Linked DNA regions of Homo sapiens: regions 2, 3 and 4 are each reported to be linked to region 1. Evidence: microRNA targets listed by miRTarBase, many of them from high-throughput screens and not tested one by one. Region 1 holds a microRNA gene; each other region holds the end of a gene's coding sequence.

What was found. Region 1 holds the annotated microRNA hsa-miR-1227-5p (GUGGGGCCAGGCGGUGG, at 4,053-4,069, opposite strand). A microRNA usually pairs through its seed, bases 2 to 8, with sites in the 3' UTR of a target mRNA and lowers its output. Matches are read on the target gene's strand: a 7mer-m8 pairs with bases 2 to 8, a 7mer-A1 pairs with bases 2 to 7 and ends in A, and an 8mer does both.
Region 2: miRTarBase lists ELOVL5 as a target of hsa-miR-1227-5p. Seed matches in the 3' UTR shown: 7mer-A1 at 875-881.
Region 3: miRTarBase lists DAZAP2 as a target of hsa-miR-1227-5p. Seed matches in the 3' UTR shown: 7mer-A1 at 4,015-4,021.
Region 4: the mRNA of ACIN1 is a reported target of hsa-miR-1227-5p. Seed matches in the 3' UTR shown: 7mer-m8 at 1,216-1,222.

What each region holds. Positions count from the first base shown.
Region 1 is chr19:2,230,081-2,235,138 of GRCh38, forward strand. MIR1227 (microRNA 1227) reads right to left here and starts at 4,069; the gene lies at 3,982-4,069. It overlaps DOT1L (DOT1 like histone lysine methyltransferase), which reads left to right. Exons shown (of 28, transcript NM_032482.3): 28 at 1-2,498. It overlaps PLEKHJ1 (pleckstrin homology domain containing J1), which reads right to left. Exons shown (of 6, transcript NM_018049.3): 4 at 4,070-4,160; 5 at 3,918-3,981; 6 at 3,073-3,825. The coding sequence ends at 3,760. RefSeq lists enhancers at 4,474-5,053, 5,056-5,058.
Region 2 is chr6:53,264,883-53,269,940 of GRCh38, reverse strand. It overlaps ELOVL5 (ELOVL fatty acid elongase 5), which reads left to right. Exons shown (of 8, transcript NM_021814.5): 8 at 671-2,537. The coding sequence ends at 814. Among named protein-coding and RNA genes, the nearest start is that of MIR5685, 9.6 kb to the left of the region's middle.
Region 3 is chr12:51,242,068-51,247,125 of GRCh38, reverse strand. It overlaps DAZAP2 (DAZ associated protein 2), which reads right to left. Exons shown (of 4, transcript NM_014764.4): 4 at 3,193-4,796. The coding sequence ends at 4,668. It overlaps SMAGP (small cell adhesion glycoprotein), which reads left to right. Exons shown (of 4, transcript NM_001031628.2): 3 at 295-375; 4 at 1,007-2,568. The coding sequence ends at 1,185. Among named protein-coding and RNA genes, the nearest start is that of DAZAP2, 5.8 kb to the right of the region's middle.
Region 4 is chr14:23,055,269-23,060,326 of GRCh38, reverse strand. ACIN1 (apoptotic chromatin condensation inducer 1) reads left to right here. Exons shown (of 19, transcript NM_001386863.1): 19 at 853-1,763. The coding sequence ends at 1,179. CDH24 (cadherin 24) reads left to right here and starts at 2,807. Exons shown (of 13, transcript NM_144985.4): 1 at 2,807-2,924; 2 at 4,470-4,794; 3 at 4,974-5,058. The coding sequence starts at 4,594. LOC105370705 (collagen alpha-2(I) chain-like) reads right to left here and starts at 2,667. Exons shown (of 2, transcript NR_169511.1): 1 at 2,285-2,667; 2 at 1,678-2,042. RefSeq lists silencers at 2,578-2,727, 2,808-2,927.

The DNA.
Region 1 (5,058 bases):
TATCTATATATGAGAGCTCTATATAAAGACACGTGTCTGCAGGGCGGGCCCGCCAGCGGATTCGCCACAGCCTGCCCCGGTGCTATCTCGTCCCCAGGCCCGCGCCTGCCTCCACCCGCTTGGTGCTGACTAGACGCTGACAACGCCGAACCCCGTTCTCGGAAACGCCGCCCGGCCGGCTCCCCCGACGCGCTGCTCCCGTACCAAAGGCAGGCCCGTCGCCACCACATTCCTCGGAGGCCTCCCCGCGGCCTGAGCCCCTTCCTGAGCGCCCTGGCGCCTGCCCTGAGCTCTTCACCTTTACCCCGGCACTGTGAACCCCCAGACTGTTCACCCTCCGGGGCGTGGGTTGCGCCCTTGCATGTGAAGGGGCCTGCGCGGTGACGCAGCTGGCCATGTGCTGCGCGATGGTGCTGTGAGGACGGCGCGGGCACGTTGAACAAGTGCATTTACTTTTGTATTTCTCGGCTGTCCATGGCTCGCAGCATGCCCTGCGATGCGGGGCAGGCCTGTCGTGGGTCCCTTGGTGTTTCTGTACAGGAGAGAGTCACACTAATGAGTGGCAGTATTTTATAGAGATGTGATGAGAATTTATAAATTTCATAGATTTGACAGCTTTTATTTTTAGATGGTATAATGCACAGTGAAGAGGAAAGAAAAGCGAGGGGAAAAAACCTTATTTATTCAAACAGTGCACAAAATGGCCCCAGCGTCAGCCCCGACCCTAGACCCCTCAGTTGCAGCTCCCAGCAGCCCAGACAGAGCTGCCGGCGCCCCTGCCTGCCCCACATCCCTTCCTGTCAGGGCCACGCCTGGCACCCATCCCTTGGAGCCTGTGCTGGTTCTCCCAGCTGCTGTGGGTGTGCTGGGGCCAGGGTGCACTGCTGAAACCTGGCCTCTCTGGCCCTAGGCCCCAGGGTGACGTCGGCCCCCCACTCTGCAGCCTTGGCGGGTGCCTGGGACTGGGTGTGGAAGGAGAGGAGCTGAGGCCGGGGTGTAGCAGGCAGGCAGGGCCACTCCAGTGCTTCTGGAGCCCTGAGCAGTCAGGGCCTGGGTTGTCTGAGCAGTGGTGGCTCTGTGCCCTCCCTGGAGGATGGGATCTGGGAGTCTGAGCTCCCCGCATCTGGCCCTGGGCTGTGTGGCACTTGCTGAGCCCACCTTCTCAAGTGCTTGCTCCTGTGAGATGGCATCGGGGAGCCCCTTCCCCAAGGTGCCACAGATCCACCCTCCAGGGAGCTGCCAGCCCTGTGTTCTGGTTCCCAAGGGCAGGATGGACACACGTCACATCCCTACCACGTGGCCTCCAAAGGGAGCCACGGAGGAAAGGCTTCTGTGGTTGCTAGGTGGGGGAGTCCTGTGTGGGAGGGCCTGAAGACCCCTGCTTGTGCCTGGTGAGGGGGGTGCTGCCTCCCCCAGCCCCCAACAACCTCTCAGACCCCCACCCTCCAACATAGCTGAGTTCTGAAGATGGTGCTCCGGACCTGTCCTCTTAAGTGGTGCCCAGTGCCCTCCCCACCCCACGTTGGTGCTCTCAGCTAGAAGGTGCTGTGCCTCTGCCTGAGCCCCAAGCCCCGAGCCTGGCCTTCAGGACAGGCAGCCTGCTCTGTGTCGCCACGGGCCGGATACGCCACAGGGTTGATGGCAGAGACGGCCGAGTCCCTGGTCTAGAACAAGACACATTCTTTAAACACTGTATTACTTCTGCCTCCCTCTAGGTGACAGTGGCAGTCCGGGTGCCATCACGGGTCCTGCAGATGGCCATGCAGGGCTCCTGCCCACGCAGGCCACCGTATGTTCAGGACACGCACTGGGTCTCAGAGCCACTGGCCCAGGCAGAAGTCTCCTTGAGCCCACTGGGTCATATGCGTGTCACCACACGTGAACTAGTGTGGTGGCTGCCTGCGGACACCCTCCTGTTCTGAGCCCTGGGCCTGTGTTCTTCTCAGACACTCCCAGACTGAGGGGTGGTGTGTGGCGGGTGGCAGGGTGGCTGTGGAGACTGGGGATCTGGAGCCTGGTGCTGGCACCTGGCCTGAGTTTCCGTGGGCAGCTGGCGGGGACCTGTGCTGCTGCTGCTGACTGTGGGTGGGCGGGCGGCGCCTGGGAGTGGCTCTTGCTCAGGAATTGATAGGAACCCTAAAAACTAGGATACCCCCTCCTCGGCCCATGAGGCACGCACAGTGACTTATTTAAGACTTCCCCCTTAATTTATCTGCCCCCAGGATGCGTCAGTCTGTTCAGTGGTCAGCAGGCCCCCCACCCCCCGCCGACTGCCCTCGCCATCGTGGTCAGACCCCCCTCCCAACACAACACGCTGCTGGTCTGTGTCAGCCTTTGTAACGTGGGAGGCTCTGCCGTGTCTTCCGGGTGAACTGTATTTGGATTGCGCGCATTGTCACGGTCCGCCCCTGGGCTGCAGGCGCCCCTTCCTCTGGGCACCCCTGCATTCTGCATCCCCACCTCTAGACGCTGTAATAAACAGACTGTTTTCACTCGGACCTGGTGTGAATGGCAGCCTTTCTTCCAGGTGGCATGAGGCGTCTCCTGGCGGCCAGTGAGAGGCCCCGGCTAGTGTGTCATCGCCGAAACGGGGAGTGGAGGGCCTAGGGGTGCTCCTAGCAGAAGCTCCGGGGGCTGACACCAGGACACCCTGGCCTTGGGGAGGCTTATGAGGGCACCAGGCCACAGGCAAGGGGAGGCTTATGAGGGCACCAGGCCACAGGCAAAGTGCCTTTTGATGAACGGAAAACCAGATCTGCGACCCCAATGACATCGGCAAAGTCCTTTTCACATCAGATGGACCAAAGCCCGCCCAGGCCCCAGCCACACTCCGGGAGGGCCCGTGAATGCCAGAGGCAGGACCCCAGGTCACCACAGGATTCCTGATACCACACAGCAGCTCTGTTCTCCCCAGGCCTGGGTCCCAGCCTCCACCTGTCCTGGCTGGGGGTTCTAGCTCTCCCCTCAGTGCAGGAGGCCCAGCCACTGCCTCTCAGGACCCTGAGCCTTACTTCCCTTGGGTGGGGGCTCCCTGGCTGCCCCTCCCCTCTCCTTCACTTCACCGCCATCCAGTGTGGAAAAGAGGTACCTTTATTTGAACAGAACAAGCACCCTGGCCCCAGGGCAACCACTTCCCCAGGTGCACAGCCAGGGCCCTCCTGTCTGCAGGAGAATTCACAGCTGGTGTGGGACTCAGCCCCTAGGCCATTCACAGCTTTGTCTGGCTCTGTACATTCATTCAGCACGGGGCAGGGGGGCCATGCCACCAGCCTGGGGGCTCACCAGGCCCCTGGATGCACACAACTCAGGCAGGGCACCTGTGGGAAGGCGCATATCCTGGCGGCAGCAGCACGTGGCACCAGGTGCCAGGCCAGTTAGGTGGATCCTGGGGCCCCAGGGAGCGCAGCTTGCTGGGCAGTTTCATAAAATGCAGCCCCTGCCCACACCCACCTGGCTTCAGGCTTTGGATGTCTCCAAACCAAAAACCTCCCACTGAAAATCCAGGTGTGATGGCCGGGTGTGGCGGCTCATGCCTGTGATCCCCGCTACTTGGGAAGCTGAGGCAGGAGGATCACTTGAGTCCAGAAGGTCAAGGTCACAGTGAGCTGTGGCACCACTGCACTCTAGCCTGGGCAACACAGTGAAACCCTGACCCAAAAACCAAAAACCAAAACAAAACAGATCCAGGCATGGCCAAGCGATTCATGGCTGGGCAGGGCCAGTCCCGTCCCGCTGCACGCTGACCACCGTGCCCTGCGCTCACGCCTGCAAGCCACTCAGCTGGAACCTGGCCTCCTCGGATATGCCGAACTGTTCCAGGGGGTCCTGTGGGGAGGACGGGTGGCCATGAGCCAGGGCTGGAGGACTGCCTCTGCCACCTGCAGCCCCACCCCGGCCCTCTGCAGCCCTGCACACACCTTGCCCGTCACCTTCCGGATTTCGTTCCTGTAGAAGATGAGGCTTCTCCGCATGAACTCGTAGCTGGGGAAAAGGGTGGCACGGGGTCAAATGCCCGCTCTGCATGGCTGCTGTGCCCACCCCAGCAGTGCCCACCACCGCCTGGCCCCACCTGGCCCGACGCAGAGCCTCCATCCACTCCTGACACTGCTCCTCGCTGCTGCACTCAAAGTGATACTTCCTCTCAGGGTCCTCAATGAAGCCTGGGGATGGAACACCTGTGGTCGGTCCTACCCACAGCCACAAGCAGCTTCCTCTTGCCATTGCCCATAAACTGTCCCTTCTCTGGCCCCCACAAAGATGTGTTCATGTCCTGACCCCCCAGAACCCATGAGTATGGCCCTGTATATAAACAGGGTCTTTGCATATAAACTAGTCAAAATGAGGTTGTCGCCAGGTGCGGTGGCTCATGCCTATAATCCCAGCGCTTTGAGAGGCCAAGGTGGGAGGATTGCTTGAGCTCAGGAGTTCGAGACCAGCCTGGGTGACATGGCAAAATCCCCATCTCTACAAAAACAAAAATTAGCCAGGTGTGGTGGTGGGGCCTTGTAGGCCCAGCCACTCCGGAGTCAGAAGTGGGAGGACTGCTTGAGCCAAGGGGGTTGAGGCTGCAGTGAGCTGTGATCACGCCACTGCACTCCAGCCTCGGAAACAAAAGATCCTGTCTCAAAAATAAAGAGGGCCGGGTACGGTGGCTCAAGACCGTAATCCCAGCACTTTGGGAGGCCGAGGTGGGAGGATCACCTGAGGTCAGGAGTTCGAGAGCAGCCTGGCCAATATGGCGAAACCCCGTCTCTACTAAAAATACAAAAATTAGCTGGGCATGGTGGCGCGTGCCTGTAGTACCAGCTACTCGGGAGGCTGAGGCAGGAGAATCACTTGAACCCGAGAGGGGGAAGTTACAGGGAGCCGAGATTGCACCACTGCACTCCAGCCTGGGCGACATACCAAGACCCTGTCTCAAAAAATAAGCAAATAAAATAATAAAGTGAAGTAAAAAGGGGTTGTCAGGGTGGGCCCTAAATTCTGCTTGGCGTCTGTGTAGAAGGGGAAATGTGGGCACAGACGTGATGCAAGGAGGACAAGGTGACGCTTCCACAA
Region 2 (5,058 bases), not on the chromosome of region 1:
TCAGGAGCAAGGGCAGAGGCTGCAAGTCCCGAGGCTCAGACATTTGTCCTTTCTTCTTCTGTGCCCACAAGCACCTGTGTGTGGCATGTTGAGTTTCAGTGGAAGTCATATACTTCTGGGCTTCATAGTTTATGGCTGCACTGTGGGACATACACCAGCTACAAGGAAGGTGAAAGGATAGGACCCGATGAAGCTGAAATCACATTTATTCTAACTACTTATAGCAGCATAGCACTTTGTTCATGAAGGCTGAGATAGTCGCCGAGGCAGTGAGGAACTTTTGAAGACGAACAAGGGATGTGGGTGTCAAGAGAGCTGCTGCCAGGTGGGAAAGACCAATTTGGCCACATAACCCCTGTCATCTGCCATCCAGATACTAAAAGGCAAAGCAAAGTGTAAATTGAATTTTCTATGTGACATTTTAAATAGTATTTCTGTTGCAGCCTGTGATTCAGTTAACTTACCTCAGGCTAAGCCTCAAAAAAAAAAAGGAAGAATGATTGAAACCAGTGACAAAAGATTTAGTCAATGAGGACTTGACCTCAGGAGTTTCTCCTTGATAAGATTTGATCTTGAAACTAGGCCTAGTGTTAGGGATGCAATTCTCAGTAAAGTTCCCTATAAAGAAAACTGTGGTCATTTGGTTCTCATCTGCCCTTACACATTTTAGACCTACAACAAGAAAGGGGCCTCCCGAAGGAAAGACCACCTGAAGGACCACCAGAATGGGTCCATGGCTGCTGTGAATGGACACACCAACAGCTTTTCACCCCTGGAAAACAATGTGAAGCCAAGGAAGCTGCGGAAGGATTGAAGTCAAAGAATTGAAACCCTCCAAACCACGTCATCTGATTGTAAGCACAATATGAGTTGTGCCCCAATGCTCGTTAACAGCTGCTGTAACTAGTCTGGCCTACAATAGTGTGATTCATGTAGGACTTCTTTCATCAATTCAAAACCCCTAGAAAACGTATACAGATTATATAAGTAGGGATAAGATTTCTAACATTTCTGGGCTCTCTGACCCCTGCGCTAGACTGTGGAAAGGGAGTATTATTATAGTATACAACACTGCTGTTGCCTTATTAGTTATAACATGATAGGTGCTGAATTGTGATTCACAATTTAAAAACACTGTAATCCAAACTTTTTTTTTTAACTGTAGATCATGCATGTGATTGTAAATGTAAATTTGTACAATGTTGTTATGGTAGAGAAACACACATGCCTTAAAATTTAAAAAGCAGGGCCCAAAGCTTATTAGTTTAAATTAGGGTATGTTTCAAGTTTGTATTAATTTGTAATAGCTCTGTTTAGAAAAAATCAAAGACCATGATTTATGAAACTAATGTGACATAATTTCCAGTGACTTGTTGATGTGAAATCAGACACGGCACCTTCAGTTTTGTACTATTGGCTTTGAATCAAGCAGGCTCAAATCTAGTGGAACAGTCAGTTTAACTTTTTAACAGATCTTATTTTTTTATTTTGAGTGCCACTATTAATGTAAAAAGGGGGGGGCTCTACAGCAGTCGTGATGAAACTTAAATATATATTCTTTGTCCTCGAGATTTTAGGAAGGGTGTAGGGTGAGTAGGCCATTTTTAATTTCTGAAGTGCTAAGTGTTTTTATACAGCAAACAAAAAGTCAATTTTGCTTTCCACCAGTGCGAGAGAGGATGTATACTTTTCAAGAGAGATGATTGCCTATTTACCGTTTGACAGAGTCCCGTAGATGAGCAATGGGGAACTGGTTGCCAGGGTCTAAATTTGGATTGATTTATGCACTGTTATCTGTTTTGACACAGATTTCCTTGTAAAATGTGCCTAGTTTACCAAAATTAACAAAGGGGGGGAAAGGACCTTAGAACTTTTTAAGGTAAAATCAAATATAGCTACAGCATAAGAGAATCGAGAAATTTGATAGAGGTAACTTGTTTAATGTAAATCTAATAGTACTTGTAATTTCTTTCTGCTTAGAATCTAAAGATGTGTTTAGAACCTCTTGTTTAAAAATAATAGACTGCTTATCATAAAATCACATCTCACACATTTGAGGCAGTGGTCAAACAGGTAAAGCCTATGATGTGTGTCATTTTAAAGTGTCGGAATTTAGCCTCTGAATACCTTCTCCATTGGGGGAAAGATATTCTTGGAACCACTCATGACATATCTTAGAAGGTCATTGACAATGTATAAACTAATTGTTGGTTTGATATTTATGTAAATATCAGTTTACCATGCTTTAATTTTGCACATTCGTACTATAGGGAGCCTATTGGTTCTCTATTAGTCTTGTGGGTTTTCTGTTTGAAAAGGAGTCATGGCATCTGTTTACATTTACCTTATCAAACCTAGAATGTGTATATTTATAAATGTATGTCTTCATTGCTAGGTACTAATTTGCAGATGTCTTTACATATTTCAATACAGAAACTATAACATTCAATAGTGTGCTGTCAAAGTGTGCTTAGCTCACCTGGATATACCTACATTGTTAAATGTCTAAACAGTAATCATTAAAACATTTTTGATTACCTGTGCCTGCATTTTACATTTTTTGTGCTGGCAATTCTGAAGAACTGGAGAAAAATCCACTTAATTCACTGTCTAGGAACTTACACAAATGGATATAAATAATTCAGTTAGGAAGGCCATATTATTGCTTAGTTCTCAATGAGGAAGGACCCTGCATAATAAGGCATAGTGGTGGTTCCACCCTAATGCTGTCCCCTCTGCCTCCTCCAGGTAATCCCACTAAAGGTTCCAGCTCTAAATATGCTCCTTTGTCCTTCCTCCCCATTGGCCCCAATCTCTCCCCTTACCCTGAGAATGTTAGAATTACTTTCCTAGGTCTAGACCATAGGTCTTCTGCAAAATTTTTTTCTGGAAAGAACCAGTTGGAAAATATTTCAGGCTTTGCAGGACATACAGTCCCTGTTGCAGCCACTTGACTGTGCCATCGTGGAGCACAAAAACAGCCATAGACAATATGTAAATGAATGGGCATGGCTGTGTTCTAATAAAACTTTATTTACAGGCTTGGAAAACATAGCAAGACCTCATCTCTACATAAAATTTTTAAAAATTAACTGGGCATGGTGGTACATACCAGCAGTCCCAGCTACTCAGGAGGATGAGGCCAAAGATCGCCTGAACCCATGAGTTCGAAGTTACGGTGAGCTAGGGTCATGTGACTGCACTCCAGCCTGGGCAACAGAGTGAGACCCCATCTCTTTAAAAAAAAAAATTACAAAACAGAAGGCCTGTGCCTATAGTTTGCTGACCTCTACTCTAGAGTAATGAGGTCCCCTCCCCTTGGACCTAAAGCTCAATCATTTTATTTGCCAAAGATCATTTTATGTCCCAGATTGTGGCCCTTCCCAGCGTACCCTACTTATTTTGAATTTACAGGTACATTCACGTCTACAACAGGAGAGATGACATGGATGGTCCATCTTCCTTCCATCTACTTCATACCATATGGTCCCCAGTATAGGCTCTTAGGTACTAAACTAGAAAGCACCTAAGAGCCAAGACTAAGCCTATACCGTTTTAAATGAGTGCTCATGAAAGTCATGTTAGTTGCTGAAATTACCTGCGGATGTGACTGCAGAATTGTCAGAACTCCAGAGAAATGTCACCTAAAACTGCATTTAGTACTTGGGATATTATCCAGAAGGTGTAAGAGGATTGTTGGGGAGTTGATGGGAATAAATTATATCCCTGTCTTTCCCCTCTAAGTTCAGAACAAATTGAAAAAATACTGGAAATTAGACCAGTAGGAATCAAAATAGCATGTGTCTTACTAAGAAGGCTGGATTGGTGAAACTAAGACCACAGTGTGGCTCTCTAATTAACCCTTGCTAATAACTCTATTAACCTAACTTACCAGGGCTCAGTAGCACACCAGTGGTTGCTCTGAGGGTTGGTCTGGTGATAAAGTGATTATTAAAATATATTAAATATCAGTCCTGGAATTTACCTACCTTAAATTGTAAACTCCCCTTGTGGCAGATTCTACACTGATGACCTTACCATGCCAAGAAAGTGTGCTTAGCTGCACCTCCCAAGCAGCAATCAAAGTCTTCCCTCCTCCCGTCAGAGAAGTGAGTGGATAAGAGGCGAGAGAGAGGGCAGATGTGTTCTGCTGTCCTTTTTCTTGTATGGAAAAGGGAGGATTCCCATTTCTCCCTCTATTTTTGGCAGCCTTGCTAATCATGTGAAGGGCATTGTAGACTAATATGAGAAGTACAACTTGGAGACCACATTGGCTGGGTTGAAATCCTACCTGTATGACCTTTTGGCAAGAAAACTTTGCCTTAGTTTTCTCTTCTGCCAAATAGGAGTAATGTTAGTTTCTATGTTACAGGGTCCTTGTAAGGATTAAATAGATGACTAATGATACTGTATATATAAAGCCTTTGGAACCCCATCTAGCTCAGAGTAAAGTGTAAGTGATAACTTCAGGATTGTAATCTCAACTCACCCCACTGGTCTCTTTCAGCTGTAAGCTATTGTTTCACTGTTATTTCCCTGGTTGGCTGCTCTAGTAATCCTATCCAAAAAAAGGGAAGGAAGTTATTTCGTGTGACATTTTCTTTGTTAAATCAGTGTTGAAAAGAAATCAGCAATTGTTAGGAGTCAAATGTTCACCGTCTATATTATTCCTGATTTTGCCAGAGTTTTACATTAAGTTCACCATTCTGGAGTTTTTAGAATCTACTTTGGAAAATAGGGCAGTGATTATCAGTATCTGGACTTCGTTCATTGTTTCCCTGGAGTTCTGACAACAATTCTGCAGTCATATCCACAGGTTGTTTCAGCGACTGACATGTCTTTCATGAGAACTCGTTTAAAACAGGTGTTTCCTGCTATCCCCTTATCACTCTTGGACTTCAAATCCTAACCAGGTTTTTCTTTACACTCTTTAATTTGGAAATGATTGTCCTCAGTGGAGCAGATGGAGCCAAATAGTGGTTGCTGTCAGTTTTTTGCTCTGCTCTTCAGCATTGCTTCATTGGCCATTAGTTCTTACTCCAGGCATAGATTTAAAAC
Region 3 (5,058 bases), not on the chromosome of region 1:
CACACAGCTAGTAAAGGACAGAGTTCATATTTGAAACCCAGTCTGTCAGGCTCTATAGCCCCTACTCTTAATCACTATATTATGCAGGGAGAAATCCATCAACATATTGTCTTTGGGTGGTGGTTTATTTTCTTCTTTATTCTCTAGGATTTTCTATTTGGATATACTCTAGGAGTTAAATGATAAACTTTTGAATAGGGAAGAAGGTGGGGTGGTGAAATTTGAAGGCCAAACATATGCTTTCAAACAAAAGAATTCACTCCATTTCCTTTTCCACTTTTCTACATTTTCCAGAAGAACTGATGACCACCCCAATTTTACAGCCCACTGAGGCCCTGTCCCCAGAAGATGGAGCCAGCACAGCACTCATTGCAGGTAATAGACTCTGAGCCAACTCCAAGGGACCTTCTGGATCAAGGGCATCTCTCTCCAGAGGGAGCCTGACCAAATCCATTAATGGGCTCACTCTGGCTTGTAAGTTATATTACACACACACACACACACACACACACACACACACAGCCATAAAAGACTCGGAGGCTTCTGTCAGAGGCACTACCAGTAAATGACAGGTTGGGAGGTGGCCGCAAATAGATATGCATACGGACGTTACACTTGAGTACGTGGGTAGGGACGAGGATATATGTGGTTGGTTGAGTGGGTGAGGAAGAGGGGGAGGATCAGATAAACCACTTCCTGTTAGGATAAGCCATTTCCTGTTCCCTCCTTCCCGTTTCTTTAAGAATCAGGAACTGGTTTGGGAGGCAGTTCAGTTTTGTCAGAAATCAAAAGCATGTGTCCTTAGCTTAAGCACCAGGAGACTCCAGCTATTATGTGCCATGGAAATTGGGGTTGGTGGGGGAACATGGGTTTGGATGGAAGTGGACACTAGTTAATGAAAACAAGAGGATCTTTACGAAAACAGTGACTAAATCAGATGACTCCAGGAACTACTGAGACATCCTCAATCCTGAAACATCTCTACATTTTCCCTCTCCTTTCCAAGTTGTTATCACCGTTGTCTTCCTCACCCTGCTCTCGGTCGTGATCTTGATCTTCTTTTACCTGTACAAGAACAAAGGCAGCTACGTCACCTATGAACCTACAGAAGGTGAGCCCAGTGCCATCGTCCAGATGGAGAGTGACTTGGCCAAGGGCAGCGAGAAAGAGGAATATTTCATCTAATGACTCCCAGGCCCCAAGGAGCTTATTCCTGGCTCCATCGCTAACACGTTGACTGCTTATTATGGGAAAGTTTTCTCTGAAGCCAGGGAGAAGCATTGATTGATGTGGGCAAATCCAAGCTCCAGCCAGGTCGCAGTCCCAAATGCCGACATCACTGACTCCAGGGACCAGGGACATGGAGAAAGCTGTTTATGATATCTTTAACCAGGCCCTCTTACTAGAGCTGGTGTTTGTGACTGGCCAACAAGATGTGGCTATGCCAGGGGACATCTGAGTATGTGCCCAGTCATCTTTTTTCACAGGTTGAAGGGAGAGAAAAGATTTTGAGTTAAGGTCATTGGCTGCTCTACTCTGTCCCCTACCTGGTCACCTAGTGATAGCCCCAGTGGAGATACTGTCCATACAAGGTCTTCCCAGAGGCTGGATACCACAGTAAAAGGCCAGGCCAGGAGGGGTAGGAGACTATGGAGATCTTACCTCCTGATAAATGTGCTACACCCCCTAATCTGAGCCCTTCCTTTCCGTGTTCCCCAACAACCTCATGCTTACGTGATTTTTATTCAAATTAAAAATTTTCATTGCTACAGAAATCAGATTCTCATGTGCAAGAAGTAACTACATTTTGACTTATTTTTGCTTAAACATTTTTGACATTTTCTTTTCCCTATTTAACGCCTTTACATATGTTCTCTTCCAAGCAATAAGAACCCTAGGAAAGTTCTAGAAGTTTGCAGAACTATCTCAGGGATTTGAGACAAAGATGGTGCAGGAAAGCTTGTTCCAGGGGAACATCATTAGAAACATACCCTGGGAGGGCCGGGTTCGGTGGCTCACGCCTGTGATCCCAGCACTTTGGGAGGCCGAGGCAGGCGGATCACAAGGTTAGGAGATCGAGACCATCCTGGCTAACACGGTGAAACCCCGTCTCTACTAAAAATATATAAAAAAAATAGCTGGGCGTGGTGGCGGGCGCCCATAGTCCCAGCTGCTTGGGAGGCTGAGGCAGGAGAATGGCTTGAACCCAGGAGGCGGAGCTTGCAGTGAGCTGAGATTGCACCACTATACTCCAGCCTGGGCAACAGAGTGAGACTCCGTCTCAAAAAAAAAAAAAAAAAAAAAAGTACCCTGGGAGATGAGTTGGTTCAAGCCTCCATCCTGGCAAGGGCCAGAATTTCCCAGAATCCCTTCTACATATATACAGAAGGAACCAGAAAAAATCAACCTACCACCTTTCCCAGTGTATCCTCAGAATCAAGCCAAGAAGCTTCTTGGATTTTAGTCTCAAGATAAGTTGTGTTTAAAAGGCACATTTTGGTATAAATTATTAGCTCATCAGATATTGTTCACTTTGGAATTAAAGCTAGATCTCCTTTGAAGTCTTAATGTATTGCCTCTGTTGTCCAAGCTCAAACCCAACCAAGTTAAGATCAAGAGCTGAGGAATCTGGCTGGGTGCAGTGACTCACTGCCTGTTATCCCAATACTTTGGGAGGCTGAGGCAGACAGATCACTTGAGGTCAGGAGTTTGAGACCAGCGTGGCCAACGCAGTGAAGCCGTCTCTACTAAAAGTACAGAAATGAACCAGGTGTTGTAGCAGGTGCCTGTAATCCCAGCTACTCAGGAGGCTGAGACAGGAGAATCACTTGAACCCGGGAGGTGGAGGTTGCAGTGAGCAGACACTGCCACTGCACTCCAGCCCGGGTGACAGAGGGAGACCCTGTCTCAAAAAATAAATAAAAGAGCTGAGGAATCTATCTTGGCAACCTAGATTCTATGAGTTTTCAGTATTTCTCCACATAGAACATTGGAGAAACTAAAGGTCATCCTCAACGTATACAAATTGCTATACCAGAACCTTTTCTTCAAGCCAAACTTTAGAGCAAGTTAGGAGAATCAATAGTTCCCTCATTTCTAAGTTTAGGTCCGAAATTCCAAAATTTGTAAGAGGTTGGAGTAAAATGATGAAAAGTTGAACATCTGGAATGGAATTCATGAAATGATCAAGTCTTAGGCTTGTACTCCTGCCTTTATTTCAAAGCGTCATCAAAGGAAACAGAGCAGCAGCAGCACCTAGCTGAATTCTAGATGGGATATAAATAAAATATATATAGAAGAAATCTAAAAACAAGCTAAGTAAAGAATCCTTGCAGTGAGGTGTAATGCAACTTCATCACTTTATTCAAATCTTCAAAATAGTCTTTATTCTACATTTTTAGTATAAAAATTCCACAAGTTAAGTGCACCACAGTGTAGAGAGAGACATACAACGCTGAACTTCCATAACAGTCAATGGTACAGTCAAACATCACATGTACAGAACACACAATTTAGATGAACTGAAATTATAAGATAAAATAAAATAAAATCCAATTTCAGAAAACAAAAATCAAAACATTAAGGATCCCTGAAATATTCTTAAACCCTAATGAGATTTCACTGGACTCAAGTCATTTTGTAGTGAGACATTCACAATATGACCCTATTAACCCAGTCTAGGAATTCTGGGGAGCCGAATGAGTGGCCGCATCAGACACTCTGACAAAAAATGGTAACCAGTTTTTGATCTGAAAACTCCTCTTAATTTAGCTCTGAACACATCAATCAAGCTTTTGAAATGCATCCTCCTCCTTGCCCCTCATATTTTAAACCAACTGTTGTTCACAGTACAGTTTGCACGACATCTTTGTTCAAACATAGCTCAGTTTTTCTGGCACCAAAGCAAATTTGGGTTAGGTTCGTGTATGCAGAGACAACCTATGAGGAGGGCCCATAAGGCACCCTCCACTTTTGCCTGAGGAGATACGAAAGCAGAAGTAATGGCATCTGTACTTGGGGCACAGAGAGGGTTTCAGAGGATCCTTGTGAAACACTAGTTAAAAGATGACGAGTGGGGAGAAGTGCGAGGAAAGAAGGAAATTAGTCTGACTGGCTTTCTGTCCTGCACCATTGATTCAATGGAGACTGGCGGGAGGAAATGGAAGACTAGGGTTGGAGATGGGATGGGTGGGGCAAGGGATGGAAAGGAAAAGGCAGACAACTAATGCGTTCCATTTATAACAAGTAATATATATCAAAGACTTAAAGGAGATTAAAGACCAATCAGAATAATTTGGCAACTTTAATTCTTAGGAAGATCAAAGTTCCCTCCAAACCTAATTTGATGTTTTATTACTAAAAGCAAAGACCAGTATGGTACAGTATTACTCCAGAGAAATTAAAGGAAAATCCTTAGGGCGGCTTCACCCACATTCATTTTATGAATGGATACCTCCCCTACCTCAAAATGCTTTAGGGAGGTACTGCTACCATTACATGGTTCCTTATTAAATTTGAAAAGTGCCTGAAAGTTTGGGCACCAGAAAGACACCCCAACAACATGTGTCTAAACTGCAACTTCAGGTTAATATGACTAAAGCAGTTACATTGTGAGAAGTGCTGAAGGTATGTGATGTCTTTCCCGGCACAGAGGTGGCCTTGGTTCCTCACCAGATGGTGTAGCCACCATCTGAACCACCCATGAAGAAGTTCCCCTTCCGCTGAGTTACGAGGACGTTGGCTCCCTGCATGACTGCAAGCTGAGCAGCATTGGGAGGGCATCCAGGAGGTGGAGGCTGAAAGGAAATGACATGATAGAATGGGCACAGGGCAGCTAATATAAGCGAAGGGGACATAGGGGAAGCAGAGGCCTGTTAGGATGAGGCAATGTGCTAACCAGCTGCGTTTTAAGGAGCTAGTTCCGCCACCAATTTGAGTTCTAAAGTAGGTCTATACTTTATGTGAACCCAAAGATACAAACAGGAAAGGGAGCCTACCACTCATTCAAAGGGTTCCAGCTCTAAGATGAAGCCTATGGCTACCTTCTGAACATGAACA
Region 4 (5,058 bases), not on the chromosome of region 1:
AGGGCCAGGCATGGATGGTGCCAGTACCTGTCAATGTGTGTAAAAGTTGAAACTTGGTGGCTAGGCATGGTGGCTCATGCCTGTAATCCCAGCACTTTGGGAGGCTGAGGTGGGCGGATCATCTAAGCCTCCATCTAAGCCAGGAGTTTGATACCATCCTGGCCAACATGGTGAAACCCCATCTCTACTAAAAATACAAAACTTAGTGGGGCATGGTGGCAGACACCTGTAATCCCAGCTACTAGGGAGGCTGAGGCAGGAGAATCACTTGAACCTGCGAGTCGGAGACCACAGTGAGCCAAGATAGCACCACTGCACTCCAGCCTGGGCGACAGAGTGAGACTGTCTCAAAAAAAAAAAAAAAAAAAAACTGGCGGGGCGCGGTGGCTCACGCCTGTAATCCCAGCACTTTGGGAGCCTGAGGCGGGCGGATCACGAGGTCAGGAGATCAAGACCATCCTGGCTAACAACGGTGAAGCCCCGTCTCTACTGAAAATACAAAAAAATTAGCCGGGCGTGGTCGCGGGCGCCTGTGGTCCCAGCTGCTCAGCAGGCTGAGGCAGGAGAATGGTGTGAACCCGGGAGGTGGAGCTTGCAGTGAGCCGAGATCGTGCCACTGCACTCCCAGCCTGGGCGACGGAGCGAGACTCCGTCTCAGAAAAAAAAAAAAAAAGGCTGAAACTAGGAGGGAGAGAGGTGCTCTAAGAAAGACAGGATGCAGTTGTTGAGCCCCCAACCCCTTCCTGTTTAACTGAAAAGCTGACCCTGAGCTAGGAGGCAGGGTCCAGGCACAAATGGAGGCTGTGACCAGGACTGAGCTGCCTATTCTCTGCCTTTCCTACCTGGCTACAGATCGTTCAGAAAGAGGCAGAGCGGGCCGAACGGGCCAAGGAGCGGGAGAAGCGGCGAAAGGAGCAAGAAGAAGAAGAGCAAAAGGAGCGGGAGAAGGAAGCCGAGCGGGAACGGAACCGACAGCTGGAGCGAGAGAAACGTCGGGAGCACAGTCGGGAGAGGGACAGGGAGAGAGAGAGAGAAAGGGAGCGGGACAGGGGGGACCGAGATCGGGATAGGGAAAGGGACCGAGAACGAGGCAGGGAAAGGGATCGCAGGGACACCAAGCGCCACAGCAGAAGCCGGAGTCGGAGCACACCTGTGCGGGACCGGGGTGGGCGCCGCTAGCTGGGAAAACACTAGAGCTGCAGGTACCAGCCACTCGGCCCCAGGGGGTTATGGCCACAGAGGGATAGGCACAGTCTCCACCACCCTGGAGCCAAGGGTCTTTCACATCACCTATCCCTACATACATACCAAATGGAAAAGTGGCCATCCTTTTCCCCCCAAACACACCCCCTTAACCTATCTCTTGGGACTTAGCCCGACCCTCCCTCTCATTTCCCATTAAGTCTGAGAGGCAAGAGCTAGGTTAGGCAAGGAGGTGGTTGGCCAGAGATGGGGAACAGCCAGGTGCCCCAGTCCTCTGATTTTTCCTCCATCCTGCTTACCACCTCCCTGGGTACTTACAGCCTTCTCTTGGGAACAGCCGGGGCCAGGACTGGGTCACCTATGAGCTGAATCAGCATCTCCTCCTGAGTCCCAGGGCCCCTGCAGTTCCCAGTCTCTTCTGTCCTGCAGCCCTTGCCTCTTTCCCACAGGTTCCACTTTATATCCACCTTTTCCTTTTGTTCAATTTTTATTTTTATTTTTTTTATTATTAAATGATGTGGTCTATGGAAAAAAAAATAAAAATCTGACTTAGTTTTAAACTGTGTGAGTGGCTTTCTTTGGGCAGGTTAAGAAGCCACTGTGGATATCTGAGCGTGGACATCTGAGGATATCTGGAGTAGGAGTTGCTCTCATTCCATGTGTTCCTTTAGGCTGACTGCTTCCTGCTTATTGAACTTCCCACGTCTTTTATCCCCTGCCTTGGCCCTGACCAACCCAAAGCTGTGGACCTTCCTCATTCGGGAAGGCATGGAGCAACCTGTGTCCGTGGCGGCACCCCAGCAGGGCTAGGAGGGTGGGTCCTCTTCTGGTTCCTGGTCCTGTGCACGGTTAAATTAGGGGTTTGGTCACCTGCCTGCCACCTTGGTGCCTCCCACAACTACCACCAGGGGGCGGCAGCTCCTCGCTCTGTTGGCCCCTGTAACCGAGCTTCCCAAGAAGGGTTCCACTGCCCGCCTCCGACCTCCCGCCGATGTCGTGCCTCTGTTCCCGACCCGCTCCCTGGGCCCGGGCCTCGGACTCTCTGGACCCTTCTGCCGTCCTTAAGTGTCCCCCAGCTGACCTGCTACCGTGCTTTGCATGGGCTCTCAAAACGCCGCCGCCTTGCAGCTGGGATTCCATCCACACCAGTCCCAAAAGCCAGCCGGGAACCGGGAGCCCGGAGCCGGGTCTCTCCGCAGTGGGCTCCGAATTCCCCACCTCACCGCGCGCTCGCCCGTTTTCCGCTGCGGGCGGGGACTGGCAGCTTCGCGCTCCCGGGTGCACCCGCCCCGCCAGCTCTTCGGAAATGGCCTGGCGCCGTGGCCTGGACGTCCTCCCGCCCGAGTGCCCTGCCGGGCGCTGCGGGCCCGGTCCGGGAGGGGCGCCGCATCTGTATGCGCCCCGCAGCCCAGGAGCGCCGAGGGGGCGGACGCGCGGCGCCGCCTCCGCCCCCGCCCCCGCCGCGCGGGCCCGGCTGGCCGGGGAGGGTCGGAGGCTGGGCTCTCCTCTCCCGCGCGGCGCGGAGCCGCCTCGCTCCTCCGCAGGCGGAGTCTTCTTCCCCCGCCCCCTCCGTCTCGCTCCCTTGTTCTCGCCGGGGCCGCTCAGACCTGCAGCGGAGCCGCGGCGCCCGCTCCAATCGGCTCGGGGCTGTGCCCCCGGGACCCGGCGACGGGGGCGGGCGGGGGCGCTTCCCGCCGGCCTGGGCCCCTCGGCAGTGCCAGGTAAGGGCGCCTGCCCCGGAGCAGGGGTCGGGAATCCGCGGAGGGGTAGGAGGGGGCCCGCAGCCTGCGGGGGTCTTCGGAGGGGTGCGCTCCGTGGCTGGGAGCCCGCTGCCGGCTCCCTTCTCCCGCGCTCTGCCTCTTTCCCTTCTCCCCTCGCACCTCTCTCCCTCTTTCTTCTCTCGATTTCTCTTCACCCTTCCTTCTCTGCCTGTTTGCCTTCCTTATCCCTTCCCTCTGTCTCCCCAACCCTTCCCTCTCCCTCTTGTCCTTTTTCCATCTCCTCTCCCTCTTTGCCTTTTTCTTTCTCTACCTTTCTCCCCTTTCCTGCCTTTCTCTTTTCTCTTTCTTGCTCTCCTTTCCCTCCCTCTCCTCTCCCCTTCCTGCTATCCTGTTTCCCACTCCTCTATCCCCTTCCTTCTCGCCTCCTCATCCCGCCTTCTCTCTGGTCCCCAGCCTTCCTCCGGTTTCCCCCTTCCCTCGGGAGCAAAGGGACTGTCAGGTGTGTGTCTGCTCTGAGGGAGGAGGGGCAGAAGCCACAGCTACCTGAGGGGTCCTCCCCCCCGCCCCTAGGAGAAAGGAGAGCAGTGGGAAGGGTCTCCTCTCTAGCTCCCTTCCCGTGGCCCCTCCCTGCCTCCACCCCTCCTGTCTGCTCCTTCTCCCAGAATTAAGTTCCCGAGGCCTGGCTTGACACCCCCGAAGCTGAGGTCTGCCCCTGCCTGCCCGGAACTGCCCCCGGTGACCCGTTTCCAAGCCTGGCCCCTAGGACTCCTCTCTGCCTTCAGACACCCAGGCTGCTGCCCTGGTCTCTCTCATTCTGTCTCTTGCCACTGTTCTGTTTCTGTCTCTCATCCAGTCATTTCTCTGCCGGACAGTCCCTGAGTCAGTCTAGCCGTCAGTCATTATCTGTCTCTAGCCTCTGGGTGGACCTCTCTCCCCGGTCACCTCCCCCTGTCCCCCACCCTGTATCCTCTTCCTTCAGCTCTGGCTCCCAACTCCTGTCTCACGAGCCCAGTCCCCCTTCAAGGACTGCACTGGCAGCGTGGGCTGGAGACAGGGCCTGGAGAGTGGGGCTCCCCCTTGTGGGGAGGGACTTTCACAGACTCTCAGCCCTGCCTGAGGCTGCACTCCTTGTCATCTCATGCTGACCCTAGACACCTTAAGGCCACACCTCCATGAATCCCAACTCCGTAATTTTAAGCCCTTTCTCTGGTAGCCCCGCCTCCTCCAATACCTGGCTACGTGCCCAACCTGGGAGGACAGAGACCAGATTTGGGATTCCAAGCCCTCCCAGCATCCCCTCTCCTGTGTTCCTCCCCAGTTCTCTACTCAGAGTTGACTGACCAGAGATTTATCAGCTTGGAGGGCTGGAGGTGAATACATGCAGAGCCTGGGTGGAGGAAGGATCAGCCTCTCTGCTCTCTGTCTTAGTCTGAGTTCTGGGCAGTGGAGTGTCTGGTTCCTTGGAGGTCTGGTCTTCAGCATCTAATTTTGCGGGGGAGGAGGGCTAGGGGTTTCCTTGAGCCTGAGCAGCTGCTTGTCCTGCAGGTGTGGATCCATGGGGTAGCCTCAACGCATCTGCCCCTCCACCCCAGCCAGCTCATGGGCCACGTGGCCTGGCCCAGCCTCAGCACCCAGGGCCAGTGAACAGAGCCCTGGCTGGAGTCCAAACATGTGGGGCCTGGTGAGGCTCCTGCTGGCCTGGCTGGGTGGCTGGGGCTGCATGGGGCGTCTGGCAGCCCCAGCCCGGGCCTGGGCAGGGTCCCGGGAACACCCAGGGCCTGCTCTGCTGCGGACTCGAAGGAGCTGGGTCTGGAACCAGTTCTTTGTCATTGAGGAATATGCTGGTCCAGAGCCTGTTCTCATTGGCAAGGTAAGGATGACCCCTCCCATGTCTACTCTGACACCAAGCCCTCAGGCCCTGCCCTGCAACTTCATCACTTCTGCAATGACCTTGGTCCCTCAGGACTCCCAACGCTCTACCCAAACCTAGACTCTTTAACCCTGTCTCTGTACTTGGAGCCCTCTGCCATCTTTTCGTGACCCCTGCAGCTGCACTCGGATGTTGACCGGGGAGAGGGCCGCACCAAGTACCTGTTGACCGGGGAGGGGGCAGGCACCGTATTTGTGATTGATG